Linked DNA regions of Homo sapiens. The protein of the gene in region 1 purifies or fractionates together with the protein of each later gene. This does not show direct contact. Each region holds a gene or a part of one and is shown in the gene's direction. Other genes may lie near its edges.

The links. The genes of interacting proteins can lie anywhere in the genome.
Region 2: the proteins of PACSIN2 (region 1) and COBLL1 purify together in Homo sapiens (affinity purification with mass spectrometry; 4 studies listed by BioGRID and IntAct, with this or other methods). This does not show direct contact.
Region 3: the proteins of PACSIN2 (region 1) and MPRIP purify together in Homo sapiens (affinity purification with mass spectrometry; 4 studies listed by BioGRID and IntAct, with this or other methods). This does not show direct contact.

Annotation. Positions count from the first base shown.
Region 1 is NC_000022.11:42,872,133-42,879,155, reverse strand, and holds part of PACSIN2 (protein kinase C and casein kinase substrate in neurons protein 2), read left to right. Parts: coding exon 1-108; intron 109-2,145; coding exon 2,146-2,268; intron 2,269-2,822; coding exon 2,823-3,019; intron 3,020-3,625; exon of another isoform or gene 3,626-6,664; intron 6,665-6,696; exon of another isoform or gene 6,697-7,023.
Region 2 is NC_000002.12:164,838,808-164,846,273, reverse strand, and holds the start of COBLL1 (cordon-bleu protein-like 1), read left to right. Parts: upstream 1-4,450; 5' UTR 4,451-4,564; intron 4,565-4,841; exon of another isoform or gene 4,842-5,027; coding exon of another isoform or gene 5,028-5,077; coding exon 5,078-5,118; intron 5,119-5,451; exon of another isoform or gene 5,452-5,525; intron 5,526-7,466.
Region 3 is NC_000017.11:17,157,450-17,164,472, forward strand, and holds part of MPRIP (myosin phosphatase Rho-interacting protein), read left to right. Parts: intron 1-982; coding exon 983-1,553; intron 1,554-3,790; coding exon 3,791-3,907; intron 3,908-6,659; coding exon 6,660-7,023. UniProt on the Homo sapiens protein: Targets myosin phosphatase to the actin cytoskeleton. Required for the regulation of the actin cytoskeleton by RhoA and ROCK1.

The DNA of each region.
Region 1 (7,023 bases):
CCTGAATCGAACCCTCAGCCGGAGAGAGAAGAAGAAGGCCACTGACGGCGTCACCCTGACGGGCATCAACCAGACAGGCGACCAGTCTCTGCCGAGTAAGCCCAGCAGGTGAGTGGGCGCCACCTCCATCCAAAAGAGGCCGTTCCATGGTGGGGGCCCTGGGCAATCTGCATGGTCCAGGGCAGCCCCGGCCTGGACACCTGGGAGGTTCCTGGGCTCCTGAGCTCTGTGGGCCGTGGCCCAGCCTGGACACCTGGGAGGTTCCTGGGCTCCTGAGCTCTGTGGGCCGTGGCCCAGGGGCATCTCCAGGGAAGGTCGTCTTCCTGCCTGGTGCCAGAGCTGCTGACAGATCCAGAGAGGGAGGCTTGGCCCTGAGCTTCAGACCTGAGTGGGGAGGAGCTGATGACAGGGCTGGCATTCATGTCCCCAGGGATAGCACCGCCCTGCCCGGACACTGGTGGAGGTGCCACCCTGGTTCCCTCAGGCAGCTGAGGTCCTGCCGAGGTTCATGCTCACTCTGTATTGTGTGCAGGCGCCAGTCGAGGGAGGGACAGGAGAGGACTGCCAGGCATCTCCTTTCCAAATTACCTCTTCACTAGGAGCATTGGTTATTTCTGACTTAGTCATTGGCTGAAAATGAGAGATATAAGGGTGGCACTGTGGTCATTAGAACCTTCTGGAAAGTGTGTGCTAGAGGAGGTCTTCCTATAGGACCTGCCCACAGGCCTCCATGTGACACTCAGTAATAGTCATTTCATACGGGGGCTTCCTAAGAAGGCTTAGCCCAGGTTCCCTTGGCCTTCCTGCAGCCCCAGGCACTGAAGCCCCCACCCAGGCTCCCCAGCAGGTGTGGCTGTCGTCATTCCGCTGCTTTGCACGCTGTCTGGGCAGGTGGGCTCGGCAGTAAGTGCCTGTCCCAGGGATCAGGCCAGCACCTGTATGCTTGGGGGTGGGAATGGGAAAGAAGAAACACTGCCTCAGAGGAGACCCTGGGGGCCCTGGGCTGGCCAGGGTTGCTGCACAATCCAGCCGCCCCCACCAGTGCCGTCTCACAACAGTCTGCTAGAGAAAGGTGCCAAGGAGGGAGGAGGGCCGGTGAGCTCAGACATGTGGCCTGGATATTGGCCTCCAGCAGGCCTAGGTCAAGTACCACTTGCCAGGCTGAAGTGGATGAGGCAGTTACTGGCCACTCAGGATCACCCTGGTGGCATTGGAGGCATGTCCTCGCCTCCCTTCCTTGGTTCTGGGGTGGTGGGTGCTCAGGCTGAGCAGTCCATCCAGTGCTTTGGGGGCCTGTGCCCTGAGGCCCTGGTCTTGGAAGTAGAAGGTGCTGCTGGCCAGGGTAGCCCGGTCCTAGGATCAGTTACTTGGTGGGGTGCCAGGGCCCTTGGTGCCTGTCTGATTGGATTGCTTGATGGTCTGCCTGTGGTCTTCGTAGTGTGTAACTCAGCTCCCGGCTCCCAGCCCTCAGGCAGAGCTTGGCCCAGATCTCTCTGGTTCCCACACTGGGCCTGGCAAACAGTAGGCAGTTGCACGACTGGATTTTCCCTCTGGAGCACCAAAGGAATCTTCTTTCTATCTAGAAAAGACGGTGCCGCAGGCCCTGGCCCTGATTTTGGAGGCTTCAGCTCCACAGAGCAGAAGAGCGAGCCCTGAACCCCTTAGTAGTCAGGAGGAGGCCGTGTGGGCTGAAGAGCTCAGAGCCCTCTCCCACTCATCCATGGGAGCCGGCCCCTCCCACACTGTCACTCTCAGAGGAGACCCTGAGGGGCTTTTTGACCCCCCCAGCTCACATTGGTGGGAGTCAGGACAGAGGAGAAGCCCTGAACCTGGAAACGACTTTTGCTCCAGCTGTGGCTTGTCACCCGCCCCTGGGCCACCCCAGGGCCCCTGTTCTGGACGGACTGTCTCCAGGTGCAAGGAAGGAAAAGGGAAACCAAGTCCTCTCCTAGGCTCCTGGACCGTGTTTCACAGCTGAAGTATTGCCCGCATTCTGCCATAGTAACCTTTCTGTTGAAACACCACGGTCCCCTCCGGTCACAGGAGGAGCTGATTTGTCTCTTGAGATCCTGCAGCTAGGAGTTGCCAGGACCCTCACGGGCCCCTGCAGAGCTGGGATCCCCTGAAAGCTCTCTCTCTCCATAGCACCCTTAATGTCCCGAGCAACCCCGCCCAGTCTGCGCAGTCACAGTCCAGCTACAACCCCTTCGAGGATGAGGACGACACGGGCAGCACCGTCAGTGAGAAGGACGACACTAAGGCCAAAAAGTTGGTGAACAAATGCTTCCTCTGCTCCCACCGCGCTCACTCTGTCTCTCTTCCTCTCTCTCTGTCCAGGGGTCTCACCCCTCGGCACTCGGCAATGCACGGAGCTCTGCAGGAAGTGGGCACCTGGCGTGCCGCACCCTGGCCCACTACCTGCTCTCTGGCACAGGCTCTCTGGCACCCCCATTCCTCGGGGAGGGCACAGCTAACAATCTTAAGTTGCTTTTTCTCTGTCCTCTGTTAACCCTTCAAGGCCCTAGCAGCACCATGACAGGAAAACAGACAACGCGCAGTCTGTGCTGGGGACTAGAGAGTGAGGCCCCAGGTTGGCCTCTGCTGTGGGCATCTCCAGCCGCCTGCCCCTGGAAAGCCTGTTGATGGCTCAGGATGAGTGTGGATGGCATGAACTCACACTAGCACTGGCTCCACCTGTGCTCCTTCGGAAGGAGCCCTCAGCCCTGAGCCCCAAGGCTCCAGTGCCCTCCCCTTGCGGGGCGGGGGCCTCACACCCTCTGCCGCCCTGTGCTGAGGGCCCTGTGGCCTCCCCTTTCTTGCAGTGTGAGCAGCTACGAGAAGACCCAGAGCTATCCCACCGACTGGTCAGACGATGAGTCTAACAACCCCTTCTCCTCCACGGATGCCAATGGGGACTCGAATCCATTCGACGACGACGCCACCTCGGGGACGGAAGTGCGAGTCCGGGCCCTGTATGACTATGAGGGGCAGGAGCATGATGAGCTGAGCTTCAAGGCTGGTAGGTGGGCTCCCCCAGCATCCAGGGGAGGAGGGCTTCCAACCTGCAGGCTGTGGGCGGTCTTTTTTGTTTTTTAAGTCTGGAAAAGTTCTTGCTAGTTTCACTTGTGAGTCACTGCAGGCCCTTCCCCAGTGCCCTGGCTTCATTGTCAAAAGCAGCCAATTGGCTGGATGTGGTGGCTCATGCCTATAGTCCCAGAGCTTTGGGAGGCCGAGGTGGAAGGATCGCTTGAGCCCAGGAGTATGAGACCAACCTGGGCAAAATGGCAAAACCTGTCTCTACAAAAAATACAAAAAATTAGGCCAGGCATGGTGGCTCACGCCTGTAATCCCAGCACCTTTGGGAGGCCAAGGCAGGCAGATCACTTGAGGTCAGGAGTTCGAGCCCAGCCTAACCAACATGGTGAAACCCTGTCTCTACTAAAAATACAAAAATGAGCCAGGCGTGTGGCGGGGCATCTATAATCACAGTTACTCAGGAGGCTGCGGCAGGAGAATCACTTGAACCTGGGAGGTGGAGGTTGCAGTGAGCCAAGGTCACACCACTGTACCCCAGGCTGGGTGACAGAGCAAGACTTTGTGTCAAAAAAAAAAAATTAGCTGGGCTAATTTTAGTGGCACATGCCTGTAGTCCCAGCTCTCTGGGAGGCTGAGGTGGGAGGATCACCTGAGCCCAGTAGATTGAGGTTGCAATGAATCATGATTGTACCACTATACTCCAACCTGGACAACAGAGCGAGACCCTGTCGCAAACAAACAAACAAATAAATAACCTGGGCAACAGAGCGAGATCCTGTCTCAAATAAATAAACAAACAAAAGTAGCAGATTAGCTGGGCGTGGTGTTGCATACCTATAGTCCCAGCTGCTTGGGAGGCTGAGGCAGAGGATCACTTAAACCCAAGAGGATACAGTGAGCCATGTTCATACCACGTACTCTAGCCTAGAAGAGAGAGCAAGACCCCATCTCTTAAAAAAAAAAAAAAGTAGGCTGGGCATGGTGGCTCACGCCTGTAATCCCAGCACTTTGGGAGGCCGAGGCACACAGATCACGAGGTCAGGAGATTGAGACCATCCTGGCTAAGAGTGTGAAACCCCGTCTCTACTAAAAATACAAAAAATTAGCCGGGCGTGGTGGCAGCCGCCTGTAGTCCCAGCTACTCGGGAGGCTGACGCAGGAAAATTGCTTGAACCCGGGAGGCGGAGCTTGCAGTGAGCCGAGATTGCGCCACTGCACTCCAGCCTGGGCGACAGAGCAAAACTCTTTTTCAAAAAAAAAAAAAAAAGCGGATGCCCAATGCCAAGACTCAGAAATAGTGAGGTGCTGCCAAGCCAGTGCCTGGACTCCTCACCTTGCTGGGCCAAGGCTGTGAATTGCAGGGCACTGGCTAGTCACACAGAAGGGCATCTGGAGAAGCTGTTGGCCAGGACCACCAGGTTCCCCCATATGTAGTCTGGGAGCTGCTAGCCCCGCAGGGCCATGAGAGAAGCCTTTCTCTAGGGGTCCCCAACTGCCAGAGAAGCCCTCAGGAGAGCCACAGCTTTGCCCAGACCCCAGAGTAGCACTTGGCATGCCCCTGGGCCAGGTGGGGCCTTGTCTCAGGCAGCAACTTGTGTGTGTGCACACCTACCTGCCCACACCTACCATGCACACACCAACCCACACACATATCTGTGTTGCTAGGAGCAGAAACCATAGTTTTATAAAACAGCCTGGATCCTGATTACATGTGCTCTGCCTGTGAAGACTTTCTGTGCAATGTCTTTTTCTTCTTTGAATGGTCTTCAATGATAATCTTTTTTTTTTTTTTTTTTAATAGAGACACGGTCTCACTCTGTTAGCCAAGCTGGGTTACAGTGGTGCGATCATAGCTCACAGCAGCTGCAGCCTTGATCTCCTGGGCTCAAGCAGTCCTCCCACCTCAGCCTCCTACGTAGCTGGGACCACAGATGTGTGCTACCACCCCACCCACTATAGGAATCTTTTTTAATGCATTTGCAGTTTACCAAAATGGCTTTTCACATCTTCAATTTGAAAAGTGTTATCTTGTCCGGGCACGATGGCTCACACCTGTAATCCCAGCACTTTGCGAGGCCAAGGCCGAAGGATCACTTGAGGTCAGGAGTTTGAGACCAGCCTGGCCAACATGGTGAAACCCTGCCTCTATTAAAAAATAAAAAAATTATTCAGGCATGGTGGCACACACCTGTAATCCCAGCTACTGGGGAGGCCAAGAGAATCACTTGAACCTGGGAGGTGGAGGTTGCAGTGAGCTGAGATCATACCACTGCACTCCAGCCTGGGTGATGGAGTGACACTCTGTCTCAAAAAAAAAAAAAGGAAAGAAAATTGCTATCTTAGCACCTAAGGAAGCTGGAGTGGCCTAGGGCCAAAGTGGACCCACAGCAACCCAGATTCTTCCCTCTCTTGCCCTCTTTGTGAAGCTCCCCCAGAAGCAGCATCTACCACTCCAAGAGGGAAGCTGGGCCAGAACTCAACCCACACAGGCTGAAGTGTGCCCTTGCCCCTAGGCTACACTTGTGGGAAAGGCTGCCTTACCACCACCACCCCAACCCCTGACTCAGCAGGGAAGCCAGGGCCTGGGGGCTGTGCCCAATGGCCTAGCTTCTAACCAGTCTTCAGCCTCCTCCCCTCAGCACCCAGAGTGCCAGCCTGCTGTCCCCAGACACTCTTCCCCTGGGCTGGTTATCAGCTGCCTCTGCCCAGTTTGAGAAGTTGGGTTTTTTTGTTTTTTTGGATTTTTTTTTAATGTGCCTTTAAGCCATCTTCATCCAGTTTCTGATATCTTTGGTTGGGGTTGTTACCCCCGACTTTGTTGGTTTATTTGTTTATAATTTCTAACTCCTTTTCAATCCTGCCTATTGGGTTTGACAGTAATTTTGTAGATTTAAAATGTTTCTTCCAGATCCAAGTAAATTGTCAAAAGCAAACTGATTGAAATGAACCTTCTAATCACCAGTTCACATTTGCACAATGTGAAAGCTTTCCTGTCCGTTCTATTTTCTGTGTTATCCTGCTTTTTAACAATGCAAAATTAGCTCCCAGCCAGTGTGGCTTGACTTACGTCTCTTGCGGTGTTCTGGCTGTTTGCCACATGGTAGTGTGGGGTTACAGGCCTCATCCTAGCCTCGGTAGCCTGGATCCAGGCCTGTGAGAGCACAGCAACCAATGAAGGCAGGACAAAAGAAACGCCAGGGGCCCGAGGCACGAAGCGGTGGAAAGAGATGGTGGTTCATCGTGGCTGCTGCCCTGTGGCCCCTGCATCTGCTCCTGATGCCTCTGGGTTAGATCTGCAGGCGCACTGGTCTGGCAGAAGCGGCACGACAGTGGGAGGCTGAGCCAGTGCTTACGCATGTCCCACCCTCCCAGGGTTCTTTAGTGTCTTAACACTTAATCTTCACAGTACCCCCAGTCCACAGATGAGGGCCACAGGCCCAGGGAGTGGACGCAGTTGGTCCAGGTCTCCCAGCCAGTGAGTGATGGCTGTGGGATTTGAGCCCAGGCAGTCCGGGGAGCACTGGAAGCCCCAGGTATTAGCTCCGCAGGCATGTTGACCAGCATTGCTGCCATACAAAATCCAAAGCATCAGGGAAATGCTAAACCAGGGGGAAAACTGCATCTAATTCTGAAAAATGGACCAAAAAATGCCAAAGAGAGTTACAAAACTTCAAACTTAGCAATAAAGGCAAAACAGCACTGGGACTATTTCTTTCCCACCAATTGCTTGCTCCTGACGAGGTCCGAGCCAGCAGGCCCAACTGGCCTTCCCTGCAGTGAGTTACCAACCAGAAGCACACAGGCCCCTGCCCACCCCTGGGCTCTGAGCTGCTCTGCTTCCCTAACCTGGCAAATGCCAGACCTGGGGCCCTACCCTAGTGCCACCTCCCCCTCACCACCCTAGTCTGCCTCCTTGAGACCAGGATCCATCAGTTCCTCTCATCTCTGTATCTCCTCTTCTACCCAAGGCCTGGCCAGAAGTAGGAG
Region 2 (7,466 bases), on another chromosome or scaffold:
AAAATCAAAAATTTTTTTTCATGAATAGACATTTCTGTGTTAAGGAAACTATAATATTTCAACAAACATATCTGTTGAGTTTATTCTTACCTACTAATTGTTGGTCAGTTTGAAAAAAAGGCATTAAAATAAGATTACAAATTGGAATAGGAGGGAAGGGAAAAGGAGATATACCCGTGATAAAGACAGCAGTGGCTAATTACAAAACCTGGCCCAGGATTCCTGACAGCCAAAGAAAATATTTTTGGTACTTTGAAATAAAGCTCTCATGAAGCATTTATATAGGGAACATCAAATTCTAACAACACTTTCTATGTGTTAATACATGTAGGAATACTCAAATTATGAAAGCACTACACAGAGATGAATGGATAATTAACTATTATGCATATATTACTGAATTGAGAATAAAGCTACAATTCTGACTTTCAGCTCCCTGTTTTCATCAACAAAGTCTTATGCATAAATAACATAACATATTTTCTGAGATTGGGCAGTTTCTATGAAATACAAAGTCTGAAATAAGACTTTTATTAAAACTGAAATGTAACAACTCTGATCTTGTTATATAAAACCACAAACACACACATGTACACAATCTAAGAAGACATAAAATAAACACTTCCTTTAGGTTGTAATGTGCAAAGGTGAAATGCACAGAAAGATATTAACCATCTTTTAAGTGTAATTTTTCAGTTTTAAATAAAGCTTTTCAAGTGGTACTTATAGTGGAATAAAAACATACTTAAAATAAGCATTTAAAAATGTTTTCATTATTCCAAATAGTTTACAAAAATTTTAGACAAACTCCAACCATTATGGCCCACTTTAACATGCCTATCTGCTTTTTATATAAGCACACAGGTATTTATTAAGCATGTAAACCTCCTTTCCATTTATTACTATCCAGGAGGAATATGAAACCTAGATTATTATTCAGAGAGATATATAGCTAAGTGGACCTTCATTTAGCTTCATTCTACCCATTGATTTTGGTACTAACCCCATTAGGTAACCACGTGAAGAATAAGTCTTCTTTCTCTAGTAAGACAAACTCACCTTCCATCTGTTCCATTTAAAATGGCCTACCAGCCCCTTTGAGTTGAAGTCTTTCCCTGAATCAAGTTCCTTTTAGGATTCTTCTGAGGAGGGAAGGCCTGAAGGTTTCCTTCATTCCTTTATTCAGTACACAAATACTGGTGGAGAGTCTCCTGTGTTCTGGGCTATGCTTTCAGGAGACAAAGGATAAGACGTGGTCCTTTAAGAGTAGGCTGGGCACTGTGGCTCACGCCTATAATCCCAGCACTTTGGGAGGCCGAGGCAGGCGGATCACAAGGTCAGGAGTTCAAGACCAGCCTGGCCAACATGGTAAAACCCCATCTCTGCTAAAAATATAAAAAATTAGCCGGGCACGTGGCACATGCCTGTAGTCCCAGCTATTCGGGAGGCTGAGGCAGGAGAATCACTTGATCCTGGGTGGTGGAGGTTACAGTGAGCCAAGATCATGCCACTGCAGTCCAGCCTGGGTGACAGTGAGACTCTGTCTCAAAAAAAAAAAAAAAAGAGAATAAACCCCTCCAACTCTGCATTATGTAAATGAATAACTGAAACAAAGTGTCATGGGTCCTTGCCCTACCTAACAGAACCTACTGGGGGCCAAGAAAGGGAAGGGCTACTTCTATTTCTGCAATGAGGGAAGTATTCCTGAGGGGATAATACCTATGCTTAGGCACTTAAAATGATCGGCTGGGTGGTGAAATGAGGGGGAGATTCCCAAACGGGGAAATTGAGCGCAATCTTGGAAACGTGGGCAATTTTGAAACAGCTCTGCATAACTAGAAAGATTGGAAAACAGCAGTTTTCTCCTGTTATGTGAAAAGATTTATAGCAGCCAGGCATGGTGGCTTATGCCTGTAATTCCAGCACTTTGGGAGGCTGTGGTGGGCAGATCACCTGAGGCCAGGAGTTCGAGACCAGCCTGGCCAACATGGTGAAACCTTGTCTCTACTAAAAATATAAAAATTAGCCAGGCGTGGTGGTGGTCACCTGTAATCCCAGCTACTCGGGAGGCTGAGGCAGGAGAATCACTTGAACCCCAGAGATGGAGGTTGCAGTGAGCCGAGATCGCATCACTGCACTCCAGCCTGGGCAACAGGAACAAGACTCCTTCTCCAAAAAAAAAAAAAAAAAAAAAAAAAAGATTTATAGCAAATCTGTGATTATTATTTTGCTAATCACTGGCTACAGTGAGGATAGCTTAGTACCATTATGTGAAGACCACCAAGCTTGGTGGTGCTCTTAAGTGGTTTTGCCCAACATGAGCTTATTTCTTGCTTATGTGGATTCTGTTGTAGGTCCTGGGACTCTCCAGGGCAGCTGTGCTCTGGGTAATAGTTTAGCATTCCAGTCTTGTGTCACCTTCATTTTAATACATGCTTTCATGATTGCAGTAGCAAAGGAAGGGAACATAGAGACTCAAACACTGGCAGTAATTTCACCAGGAAATAAAGCATTTCATGTCTGTTCACATTTCCACTTATCAAAGTCACAGGGTCATACCTAATTTCCATGGGGTGGAGCATATAGTTCTCCCTAGGACCAGAAGGAGGACAGCAAAAAGTGGTAAGCACTGAAAATGCCTTCAGTGGTTACGAAATGTTATGAATGTTTTATGACTAAGATTAGCCTAATCTTACTGGTATTAGGGTCCATAATATTACTAGTATGTCATAAATTAAGGCTGAAACTAATTAAAGATTTAATCTTGTCTTGTGATTGAAAGTTATGGACTTTCAAGTAGTTTCACTGTTACTCAATATTTGCATCATTGTCTGTGCAAGCAACTGTAAAAGCTTGCACAGCTCTGTATTCAGAAGCATAAATGATTCATGAAATTGTTTAAACAGAGTTATTGTTTAAAGACTAAAACCCAGAGGTATTTAAATAAATTGCTTTACTCTTAGTTAAAATCTCTAAAAGCAACTTTTTCTAATATGGTTCCAGTATTGTAATCCAAATGAGCCATGTGTTTTTTTCTTTTCATATTTAAGATGCACTGAAAGGACATTATGCACTGAAAGAAATAAATACCAATGCCTGCGTGTGGTAGACAAATGGCACATTGCTAGGCATTTAGTTCAGCAATCTTTTTTTGTTGCTGCAATGGATAACCAACTAAAGGAGCATTAATATCAATTTAATTGTAATACCTGCCAAATGTTATTCTATCAGTGGCTAACACAGGTTTATTACTTGATGTTAGTGCTACAACAGAAGTCCCCTGCAGGATGTTCCTTCCTGTAAGATCTCTCCATCAGTTTAATCCAAATATGTTTTTAAAACTCTAATTTTAAATTCATTTCTTAATGTCACGTTGTTTTCTGAAAACACATTTTTGGGCCCATCAGAATGGCGCGCATCTTAAAACAATTGGCGCTTATGAAAAATATAAAATATGTAAATATATTAGGGTGGTGCAAAAGTAATTGCGGTTTTGTCATTACTTTTTAAAAAAAAAAAAAATGGCAAAAACCGCAGTTACTTTTGCACCAACCTAGTACCTGTCTGTCAGGTGTAAAGAATCATCTAAAGGGCATGCACGTGGATACTAAAACGTACAAACAAGCACACAGCTGTGTCTGATTCCTTTACCCTTGTAAAAGTTCCAATAAGTGAATACAATCTATTACTTAATTCTTAGTTTATAGACTGTCATTAGACATACTGTTGTCCAGTTCTCATGTCAGAGCTGTTATAGGCTTTTACAAAAAATGCCTCTGAAGACAGGGCAAGCTTAAACCTGCCACCAATTAGAAAGATCTGTGTCACAGGTGCGCTTTTAAAAGAATGGCAATCTTAAAGGTCAAGTTAAAAACACAAATTTAAAAAAACGATCCTGGACGTCGAGGGTCGGACTCTAGGGGGGGCAAGCTGCAGGCCCCACTCTGCGAGTTTCTGACCGCATTCCGCGGAGGCCCCAATCCTCCCCGCGGATCCTGGCAAGGCAGGTAACCTCCCTTCCCCCGCACCTGTCCGGTTCAGGCGCACCAGCCTTCCCGAAGCGCAGCCTAGCGGTGGGAATGGGAACACCTCGTCTGGGAGCTTTCTTTCGGTTCAGCTTCCCCAGCCGGACCCCAAAGACCCGAAGCCCTGGGGGAAGGAAATTCCAACTTGCTCCCGGCCCACCCCCGCCCCGTTCCTCTCTCCGGCTCGCTGCTTCCCTCGCTCCAATGCCGCCGAGCTGGTCCCCACTTATGTGCGGCCGTGCTGCAGAGGCGGCGGCGAGCTCCCGGACTCCGGGCAGGGAAATGGGGCAGGGTGAGTGAGAGAGCGGGCTCCAGCGAGGCCCCCAGCGCCCAGCCAGCGCCCGCACCCCGCCCGCGGGACAGGGGAGGTGCTGAGTCGGCCCTGCCCGCGCTGGGCTGAGCCTCGCAGGGGTTGCCGCTTCTCCATTCAAGTCCTGGCTTGAGAGCCGAGCGGCAAGAGCGCGGGCCGGGGAAGGGAAGAGTAGGAGAGGAAGCCGCGAGGGAGAACAGGCGAGCTACTGTCTCCTTTGGAAAAGAACGTAGGAGCCTTGGGTGGGAAAAGAGAGATCAGCCCTCCCAACTTCTCTTCGGGAAAAGTTTTCCTAGGGCGTTTTGTTTGTGCAAACTCGGCCGGAGGAGCCTGGGAGTGCGCTGCCGGCGTGGCAGCGGTGCCCGTGCGCCCGGCCCCGCTCCTCCTCCTTTTCCAGCCCCGGCGGCTCCTCTCCCTCCGAGAGGCGCCAAATGGCTACCCAGTAAACCCCACGGGGCGGGGGCTGCAGCGCCACCGCCTCCTCCGCCGTGCTCTGGGCGCCCGCTAGACCTTGTAGAGACGGCGGCGGCGCCCGCGGGCTGGGAGCCGGGGCCCGCAGGTGGAAGCGCACCCGGGAGGCGGGCCGGCCGGGGCTGGAGCGGCTCGGGCGGGCTCTTGACGCTCAGCCAGCTTCGCTCCGGCCTCGGGAAGGCGCGCGTCCCGCCCTGACCCGCCGGCCTCTCCCACCCCAGCAGTGACGCGCCGCCTGGGAGCTGGAGCCCGCGCAGCGCCCCGCAGGGCGATGGACGGCCGAACCCCGCGCCCGCAGGACGCCCCAGCCAGGTAAGCCCAGAGCGCCGCGCCGCCTCTCACCGGGGAGGGCGAGGCCGGCGAGGACAGCGAGGCCTCGGCCGTTTCACCTGGCTGGCAACTCGCTGCCCTGCCGGCGGCCTGACTCACTGACTGTCCTCCACGCGGCCGGGGAGGCTGCTTCCTCCCGGCCTTCTCGGAGGCCGCCCGGGCGGAGGGCTCGGGTCGTTTTTGGTTGCCTTCCTACCGGGGCTGCCCTGGGTTGCTACAGGCCAGCTGAATGCCAGGAATTGGGTGAGGAGTCCGGGAGCAAAAATTGTAACAAAGGGACCCTTGTTTGGGCTCTGGGGGAGCGGTGGACGATACCTGTAAGTGAGCTCCTGGGGAGGGAGGGCAAAAGTTTCCTTGGTCATGGGCTGAGGCCCAGGCAGGTGAGCAATGTCAAGGTGACTGTAGGGAGTGGGCTTTCTGCAGGCGGGTGGAGGGCGACAGGAGGGTGTGCCAGCTGTCAGCCCGCATGACAGTTCCGGGAGCGAGCGGGGTGCGCGCCTCTGATTGGGGGTGTGTGTGCCTGTGGCCAATTGCTGGTTCCAAAACCCAGCGCAAATCAGATTGCAAACAACTCTACTTTTCTTTTTATCCTCACATGTTTGAGAAGAGAGGAAGGGGGCTGTCACATGGTGAGTTAATATTAAATGAGGCATGTCTTCCTGCCAGATATGCTAATAGTTACCTTGTTAAGCGTTTGAGTAAACAGTAATGAGAACAGGTAGTTCTGCAAGAGATGAAGAAAACCTGAAAATAACCTTGGTCTTAGTAAATAGTTCAGGAGTAACCTGGATGCTAGTTGAGTTTCTCAAGTAGGAAACTCGTTTGATGTAGTACAAGATTTTTCCCCCCAGCATAAGTGTTCCTCCAACATAGTTTATTTTCTTAGTTAATCTGAATGCAGAAATGCCCTAATGAGAATACGAGCATTCCAGAAATAGAAACGTTAAGGAAAAATCGACGTTGTCACTAATGAATGAGACTTGTACAGTTTTCCTGATTTAAGAGTGTAGAAGTCATTTTTCCCTGGAACATGACAGGCGTTTCCTTAGAAGCAAGTCACAGCATGTTTATTCATCAGAGACCATGCGAACATTGGCAGCTGTCTAGAGGAAACATGGAAAAGTCTCAAAGCAACATGACTAATCTAAAAGATATTTAGTATAATTTTTACATAGAGGAAACATGTAGTGTATTAATTATTTCATTTTGCTCAAATTAACTTTCTCCTTTCTGCAAATATTACTCCCACTGTTGACTTTCATTTCTTTTCTTTCCCCAGGTTTTTCATTGCTTAAATATTTTCATATATCCTGACATATATTCTCACATTAGGATGAGTAAAGAAATATATCGGTAGAAAGATATTGAGCATACAAGCAAGGTTCCTAAGTGGAGCTGCAAAATTATGTGAATTGACGATGAGACAGCTGTCAGGATACCGAAATGTATTCAGGGATTGCAAAATGAGATAGAATTAAATTGGATTTGGAAATGGATTAGGTTAAGGTACTTTAAAAAACAAAAAAGAAAGAAAAACATACCTGCTTTCACAAAATACACCCATGGGTGTTCAGAAGTCACTGGGGACTTTTAAGTAAAATAGGTGAGGTCAGATGGCTCTGTGTTGAAGAAACAGAAGAACACTTTTTGCTGGCAAGCATAACTGTAGTAAGAACCTTCAGACTTTACTCTTGATATTTTATTTTAATGTAGAGACAAGGTCTTGCTATGTTGCCTAGTTGATCCGAAACCCCAGGCTTCAAGCAATCCTCTCACCTTGGCTTCCCAAAGTGTTGGGTTTACCAGTATGAGCCAGTGCGCCCAGCCACTTTTGAGAATTTAAAGGTTAAACTGATAAGTTCTTTGCTTAAAAAGAAAGTACAAAAGAGCCTTATCTAATTTGTCAAGCATTTGTAAAGGACTTTTGCCGTCCCCTTTTCAAATTTAAGTAGGGAAAATCTGTCAACACCTTATCTAAAATAACACAGTAGTTCTATCATTTTGCCTTACATTATTCTACTCAGAGAAGTTATCATTACCTGAAAAATATCAACATGAAAAAATTACCTCTCTACTTCATTTGTCTTATTTCACTTGTCTAACTTGTCCTTTGGCATATTCCGAATGCCTGTCATATAAGATTTGTTGAATATTTAATATTCAGTATTGCTTCTCTTCTCTCTCAAAAACCCAAATTATAAAAGGTTTAAACTGGGGGAAAAATATCTAGATAAGGGTATTTGGGAAGTGGCAGGCAGAAATCTTAATATGTTATAATTGTTAGGTTTTGGAGATAAATTTCTTGCTATAAAACTGACTAATTATATCAT
Region 3 (7,023 bases), on another chromosome or scaffold:
CACCTGGGCCTCCTGTTTCCCTCACCCTTAGGAGGTCCCAGTCTTTCATACTGATCCATCTGTCATGCCAGCAGCTGGATTGGGCTTTTAAAACATAGATTCAGGCTGGGCACAGTAGCTCACGCCTGTAATCCCAGCACTTTGGGAGGCAGGCGGATCACCTGAGGTCAGGAGTTTGAGACCAGCCTGGCCAACATGGAGAAACCCCGTTTCTACTAAAAATACAAAATTAGCCAGGCATGGTAGCGCATGCCGGTAATCCCAGCTACTTGGGAGGCTGAGGCAGGAGAATCGCTTGAACCCAGCAGGCAGAGGTTGTGGTGAGCCGAGATCGCGCCATTGCACTCCAGCCTGGGTAACAAGAGTGAAACTCCATCTCAAAAAAAAAAAAAACAAAACATAGATCTGATCACGTTACCTGCTTATTAAAAGGTAAGCCCTTCTAGAAAGTGCTAGTTTTCCCTCATTCTGTCACCACTGTCCAGTCCAGGGGTGCACAGGGCCCAGGCCTCACCTGGCAGGTACGGTGGCTGTGCCCAGGTGCAGCCTAATGTAGTTCTTGGCCCTGAGCAAGGCAGGGCTGGCCCGTCCTGCCTCTGAGGCTGTGGGAGTCCTGGGACTCCCCTGGCTCCATACCCTGGCAACGGGACCACCACAGTGAGCCCCTCACAGCCTCTTCAGTCAAGGGACCCCCCCAGTGTCATTATGTGGGAAACCTCAGCTTTCTGAGGCTCTTTTCCCTTCCTTTCCCCTTCCCCTCCCCGTCCCCCTCCCCCTCCCCCACTCAGAACCAGTTTGGGAAGGGATGTGGGGTAAAGGCAGAGTATTCCTGTCCTCCCTGCACTTAGGAAGCTGGGATTAGGATAGAAAAAGGATGTGGTGCTCACAGGGGCTGGGTTGTGGCTCAGCATTGCCAGCTTCTGCCTGGCAGGCCACACCAGAGCCGCCCCTGACAGGCTATGTCCATCCTCCTGCCCCACAGCTCGTTGCCAGAGGAAAAAAACAAGAGCAGCTGCTCTTTTGAGACCTGCCCGAGGCCTACTGAGAAGCAAGAGGCAGAGCTGGGGGAGCCGGACCCTGAGCAGAAGAGGAGCCGCGCACGGGAGCGGAGGCGAGAGGGCCGCTCCAAGACCTTTGACTGGGCTGAGTTCCGTCCCATCCAGCAGGCCCTGGCTCAGGAGCGGGTGGGCGGCGTGGGGCCTGCTGACACCCACGAGCCCCTGCGCCCTGAGGCGGAGCCTGGGGAGCTGGAGCGGGAGCGTGCACGGAGGCGGGAGGAGCGCCGCAAGCGCTTCGGGATGCTCGACGCCACAGACGGGCCAGGCACTGAGGATGCAGCCCTGCGCATGGAGGTGGACCGGAGCCCAGGGCTGCCTATGAGCGACCTCAAAACGCATAACGTCCACGTGGAGATTGAGCAGCGGTGGCATCAGGTGGAGACCACACCTCTCCGGGAAGAGAAGCAGGTGCCCATCGCCCCCGTCCACCTGTCTTCTGAAGATGGGGGTGACCGGCTCTCCACACACGAGCTGACCTCTCTGCTCGAGAAGGAGGTAATAGCCTGGGACCAGATCCCCACCCTGCTCCCAGCAGCCTTTCCAGAGCATCAGCTGTGCCCAGCTGTGGCCTGAGGGGTTCATCTAGACAGTCCTACCCGCGAGGGACTTGCAGACCCCTAGGGGAGACAGACGCATAGATGAGTCCTCATAGTTGAGGCAGACCTGAGAGCTGTGGGAGCGTGCCAGTGCATGCAGGGCAGGGAAAGGGGCCTTCCAGGCACAGAGGAATTCTTCCGATGGTGGGGGCCCCTGCCATTGAGAGGCAAGCGGCGTTGCAGGGCCTAGATGGTTTCCTCGTTCTGACTCCCGATGGCAGGAGGGGCGCGAGCAGGGCAAGGCTTTTGCATTACGCAGCCCTGGCTTGGACAGGTCAAAGCTGTAGGCAGAGACCAGCCCCAGGTGCTCTTACAGTGGCTTGGGGACGGCCGATCAGATCTGAAGCCAGGGGCATCCAGCAGGAGATGACAGCTGGGTCCTAGGTCATGAGGATATGAAGCAGAAGACAGTGGTGAGGCAGGGTAGGCTGTGGATGAAGGCTGCCCTGTGACTGTCACTCCTCCACGAGGCCTTCAGTGCACCTAGGTACATAGATGAACAAGCTGGCCCCCGAACTATAAAATAAGATGTTCTTTCATGGAAATGTATGCAGAAATCCAGTCTGCAGAACTTCAGTGGTAGATTGACATGTCTGGGCAGGGAGTCTCGTAGCTGGGGAGGTGTAGCGTTACAGTTTTTGTAGAACTCCCTGTTTCACTCTCCATTTAGGGACAGTTTTCAACACTGTGTTTCAAATGTGTTCTCTTACGTAAGTAGCTTGTTAAAGATTTGCCACTTGGGTATGCCTCAAGCTTCTCATCTTTTTTGTATTTTATTAACTGTATGAGGCTGAGTTACCACCAGCACTAATACTTGTACTTTTTCATTTTCCTCATCCATTAACAAGTAACAAAGGCAAGATGAAATAAAATAACAGTTGAAACTCACATTACTTCAGGCTACCAAAATGGGCCAGCCAGCAGGCGACACACTGGCTCAACAATCTGGGGGGTCAGTCTTCACTGTTTAAAAGTCAGGGGTCGGCTGGGCATGGTGGCTCACGCCTGTAATCCCGGTACTTTGGGAGGCCGAGGCGGGCGGATCACAAGGTCAAGAGATCAAGACCATCCGGCCAACATGGTGAAACCCCGTCTCTACTAAAAATACAAAAATTAGCTGGGCATGGTGGTGCATTCCTGTAGTCCCAGCTACTTGGAAGGCTGAGGCAGGAGAATCACTTGAACCCAGGAGGCAGAGGTTGCAGTGACCTGAGATCGCACCATCGTACTCCAGCCTGGCGACAGAGCGAGAGTCCATCTCAAAAAAAATAAATAAAAGTCAGGGGTCTCCCCGCCTCTCACAGCACAGTCTGTCAGCACCCTGGGCGGCACTGGCCTGACTGTCCACCACACACACAGCTCCATTCAGCACGAGCTCTGGGAGCAGGTTGGGTAGCCCTGCACATGGCCAGGCATCAGGAGGCACCTGGGAGGTGTGTAGGGAAGAGGTGGATGGATGAATGAGTAGCTGAAGCTGTTGAAAGCAAGAAGAGTGTAAAATAGCTTACTCATGGGTATCCACACCTTGTTTGAGGGAACTGCGGGAACTCTTTTTGCAAACAGAACTTTGTGGAATCCATCATGTAAAGCTGGTCAAATGGAGTGGTTTCAGTTGAGACCATAGTGGGCCCTGGAGTGAGGCCTGCTTGGGGCCACCACTCACAGTGGTCCCTGTAGAGCCTAGCCTGGCCTGTGTGACCAGCTGAGGACACCCAAAGGACCCCATGGGGTGCTTCCTCCAGATGCAGATGCAAAACCCTTGTTCCCCAGTGGACACATTCCCCTTCTCAGAAATGAACACCCCGTATGGGCCTTGGCACCTATATAGGGCGTGCATGTTGGAACCTTGAGCAGGTGTGGGAAGTATGTGGGCATCCAGGGGTGCCTGGAGTAGGGAAGGACAAGGTAGTCCCTTGGTGCCCATAAGGTACCAAGTCTGCCATTGTTACTGATGGCTTGCATTGGAACCTTCACTTCCAAATGCTGCTGGTAAAGGCCATATCAGCACATCTGCTGAAATGTGGAGACTCCAAAACTCTTGGGCCACATGGAAGACCAGTGAAAGAGTCTGTGCTGTGCAGCTGCTTTGTTTATCATTGTCATTTTGCATAAAAGTGTGTGTCTTTTTGCCAACAGCTGGAGCAGAGCCAGAAGGAGGCCTCAGACCTTCTGGAGCAGAACCGGCTCCTGCAGGACCAGCTGAGGGTGGCCCTGGGCCGGGAGCAGAGCGCCCGTGAGGGCTACGTGCTGCAGGTAGGGTGGAGGGGCTGCTGTGGCCCATGGTGCGCTCAGGAGCTTCAGTGTGAAGGGTTCATGCTCAGGCAGGCTAGGAGTGTGCAAAACTTGGCTGAGCAGGGGTGTCTCCCAGGAGCTCATGCCCCTGGGCTTTTCTGCCACAGGACTGGACACTCAATGTGCTTGGGGGGGTCTGTTTGTTTTTCCCTCCTGATATGACATTTTGGGGAATCTCCCTGAAACCTCTATATCTAAGGACTTTTTTTGGTAATAAAATGATTTTGGTGACCTTTCCCTTTGACTCTGAAAGTAGCCAATATACATTTATTGTAAATACCATACATTTGCATGTGATTTCTCATAGTTTTCACTATAGTAATATTGGACCTATTGTACAGATTGAAGACATTGAATCACACAGCAAGTCCAGTGCCTGCTTACAACCAACAGCAAGTCAGTGGCAAAGCTAGTACTGGACCCCATTCCCATCTGTTTCTATACCACACCTGGCAGGCAGAGCTGGGGCTCTTACCACTACTAGCCCAACCCCGGGATACCTCCACTGAGATCCTGTACCACAGAGCCCTGATATAGGGGTGTCACAAGGCTGGAGCTAGCCTGGCCCAAGGGCGTGCCTATGTCTGCTGACTTTCCTGCAGCGTGCCAGGCCTTGTGCCAGGTATTGGGCATAAAACAGATATACTCTTGTCCCCATTGAGTGGTAGAGGAGATTGTGATAGGAAGATTGATATATAAATACTGCAGGAGAAGTGAAGTGGGGTACCAGAACAGGGAGCCTAAGTTCTCGGCAAAGGCTGAGGGTATAACATTAGAATCAAGGTCCTAGGTTCAAGACTTGGCCCTGCTACTGACCCCCAAAGCAAGTGCATGTGTCCCCTCCTCTACAGCGGCAGTCTGCTGCCTGTGTAGACTTAGACCCAGTGATCCCTGAGGGCCCTTCCGGCTCTTAGACCCCGAGTCTCTGTCACGTATTGTCTACATTTGCAGACCGCAGTGCGCTGACCTTGGTCTGAGTTGTCCCAGGCAGCAGATGGAACAGGGGCACTCAGCTGGCCTCTGACCATAGTCTGCCTCTTTGCAGACTCTCTGCTGTTTCTTCTCCTGTGTGCTCCCTGGGCCTTCTCTTTCTTTCTGCCCCACATGCCCTAGACTCTCCTCTCCAGCCTCTTCTGCCATAGTCATTGCCATGCCCTGTTCAGACCTGGTGAACAGGGCCTCCCTGTGGGCCTCCCTGCCAAGGTCATTTGCGCTTGCCCTCCAGGTTTGAGGAGCATCTTTTTAATTCTTGATTGGGCCTCATCCTATAAGAACTGGCTTCAAATCAGGTAGTAAAGATAAAAGTTCAGCATCCCAAATTCGAAAATCTGAAATGCTCCAAAATCCAAAACTGAACGCTGACATTATGCTGAAAGGAAATGCTCACTGGAGCATTTCAGATTTTGGATTTTTGGATTGGGGATGCTCACCCAGTAAGTAGAATGCAAATATTTTAAAATCCGAAACAGTTCTTGTCCCAAGTATTTTGGATAAGGGATACTCAACTTGTACTAAGCAGCGGACTTTGCACATTGCTAACCTAGGAACCTACCTCTGTCTAACTTGCATAATTGCATGAGCCTACACTGAAGCCCCTGTTGGTCAGCACTGGGCAAAGCTGGTCTTTAATACCTTTTCCCTAAGTCTAATAACCTGTGACTTCTCACCACCCTTTATGCTTTGGAAATGCTTTTAATCACGACTCAGAATGAGCAGGGGGTCTGTGGGGTTAAGGGTCAGGAGCCAGCTACTGGGGTGGGTGCTATACTAACTGCTGGGAGGAGCTTGCATGATTTGGACATTGAGTGTGAAGTGTAACTTGAACTTAACATAACTGAGTGTCACATCTGTGGCTTCCCCGGCCAGCAGACCGAGAGGGAGCCATAGGCAGGCCAGATTCTTAGGCTGGGCTCGGCTCACTCTTGTTTGTGTTGTTTTTCCCTATATTAATGAGTTCTGTCTCTGCATGCCTTTCAGTGTGGGGAGTTTTGTTTCATTTACGTTGTGTTTTGTTTTTGCATGCTTCACTTTTTCTTATTTTGAACTCCACAAAGGTTTGTTTGTTTTGTTGATTATTGTATCTTACTCCATGGTTCCCGTTCCCCCCTCGTTTTGACTTCTTACAGGTAGAGATTAGTTCTTCCTGTTACTCTAGAGGACTGACTACACTTTCCACAGGAAAATGTTTGGATGTCACCTTGCTGACATCTCCCGAGTGTTACCTTCCTTCCTTCTCCTCCTGTCTTAGAAGGAAGTGGCATCATTTACCTACACCTTGTGTCCTGCGCTTGTTTAGGATTTGTTGTCAAGACTGCGTACTTTTTGTTTTGTGAAACAAACAGCTGCAGGTGCTGTGCTCCTCCCGCCTGTCCCTCTTCCTGGCGCTCTCTTGTCCTTTAGTCTTTGTTTTGCTTCTTAGTGTGTTCCATTATTCAGTTTTGTTTGGTTTATTTCTCCTAGAAGCTGTTTGGTTAAAGCTGTTTTCTGATGTTATTGTCCATGTTTTCTGTTTACCTGGAAGCAGCTACTTACTAAAAAAAAAAAAAAAGAAAATTTGTTGGATTTTTTTAATGGGAAAAAAAAATAAAGTTGTACAAAGGATAAAAGCCAAAGCCATCAAGGAGCTTTCTGTGGTTGTTCCTGGCCAGAGGTGTGACACTCAGAACTGGGAGGCCCGAGTGTTACTAACCAGTATTTAATCGGTTTTTTTAAGACTGAAGTGGCCGCCTCCCCATCGGGTGCCTGGCAGAGGCTCCATAGAGTCAACCAAGACCTTCAAAGTGAGCTTGAAGCCCAGTGCCAGCGCCAGGAGCTGATTACACACCAGATTCAGACCCTGAAGCGTAGCTATGGGGAGGCCAAGGACACGATCCGGCACCACGAGGCTGAGATCCGGAGCCTTCAGGCACGGCTCAGCAATGCGGCCGCTGAGCTAGCCATCAAGGAGCAGGCGCTGGCCAAGCTCAAGGGCGACCTGAAGCGGGAGCAGGGCCGGGTCCGCGAGCAGCTGGAGGAGCGGCAACACAGCGAGGCGGCGCTGAGCAGCCAGCTGAGGGCTAGCGAGCAGAAGCTCAAGA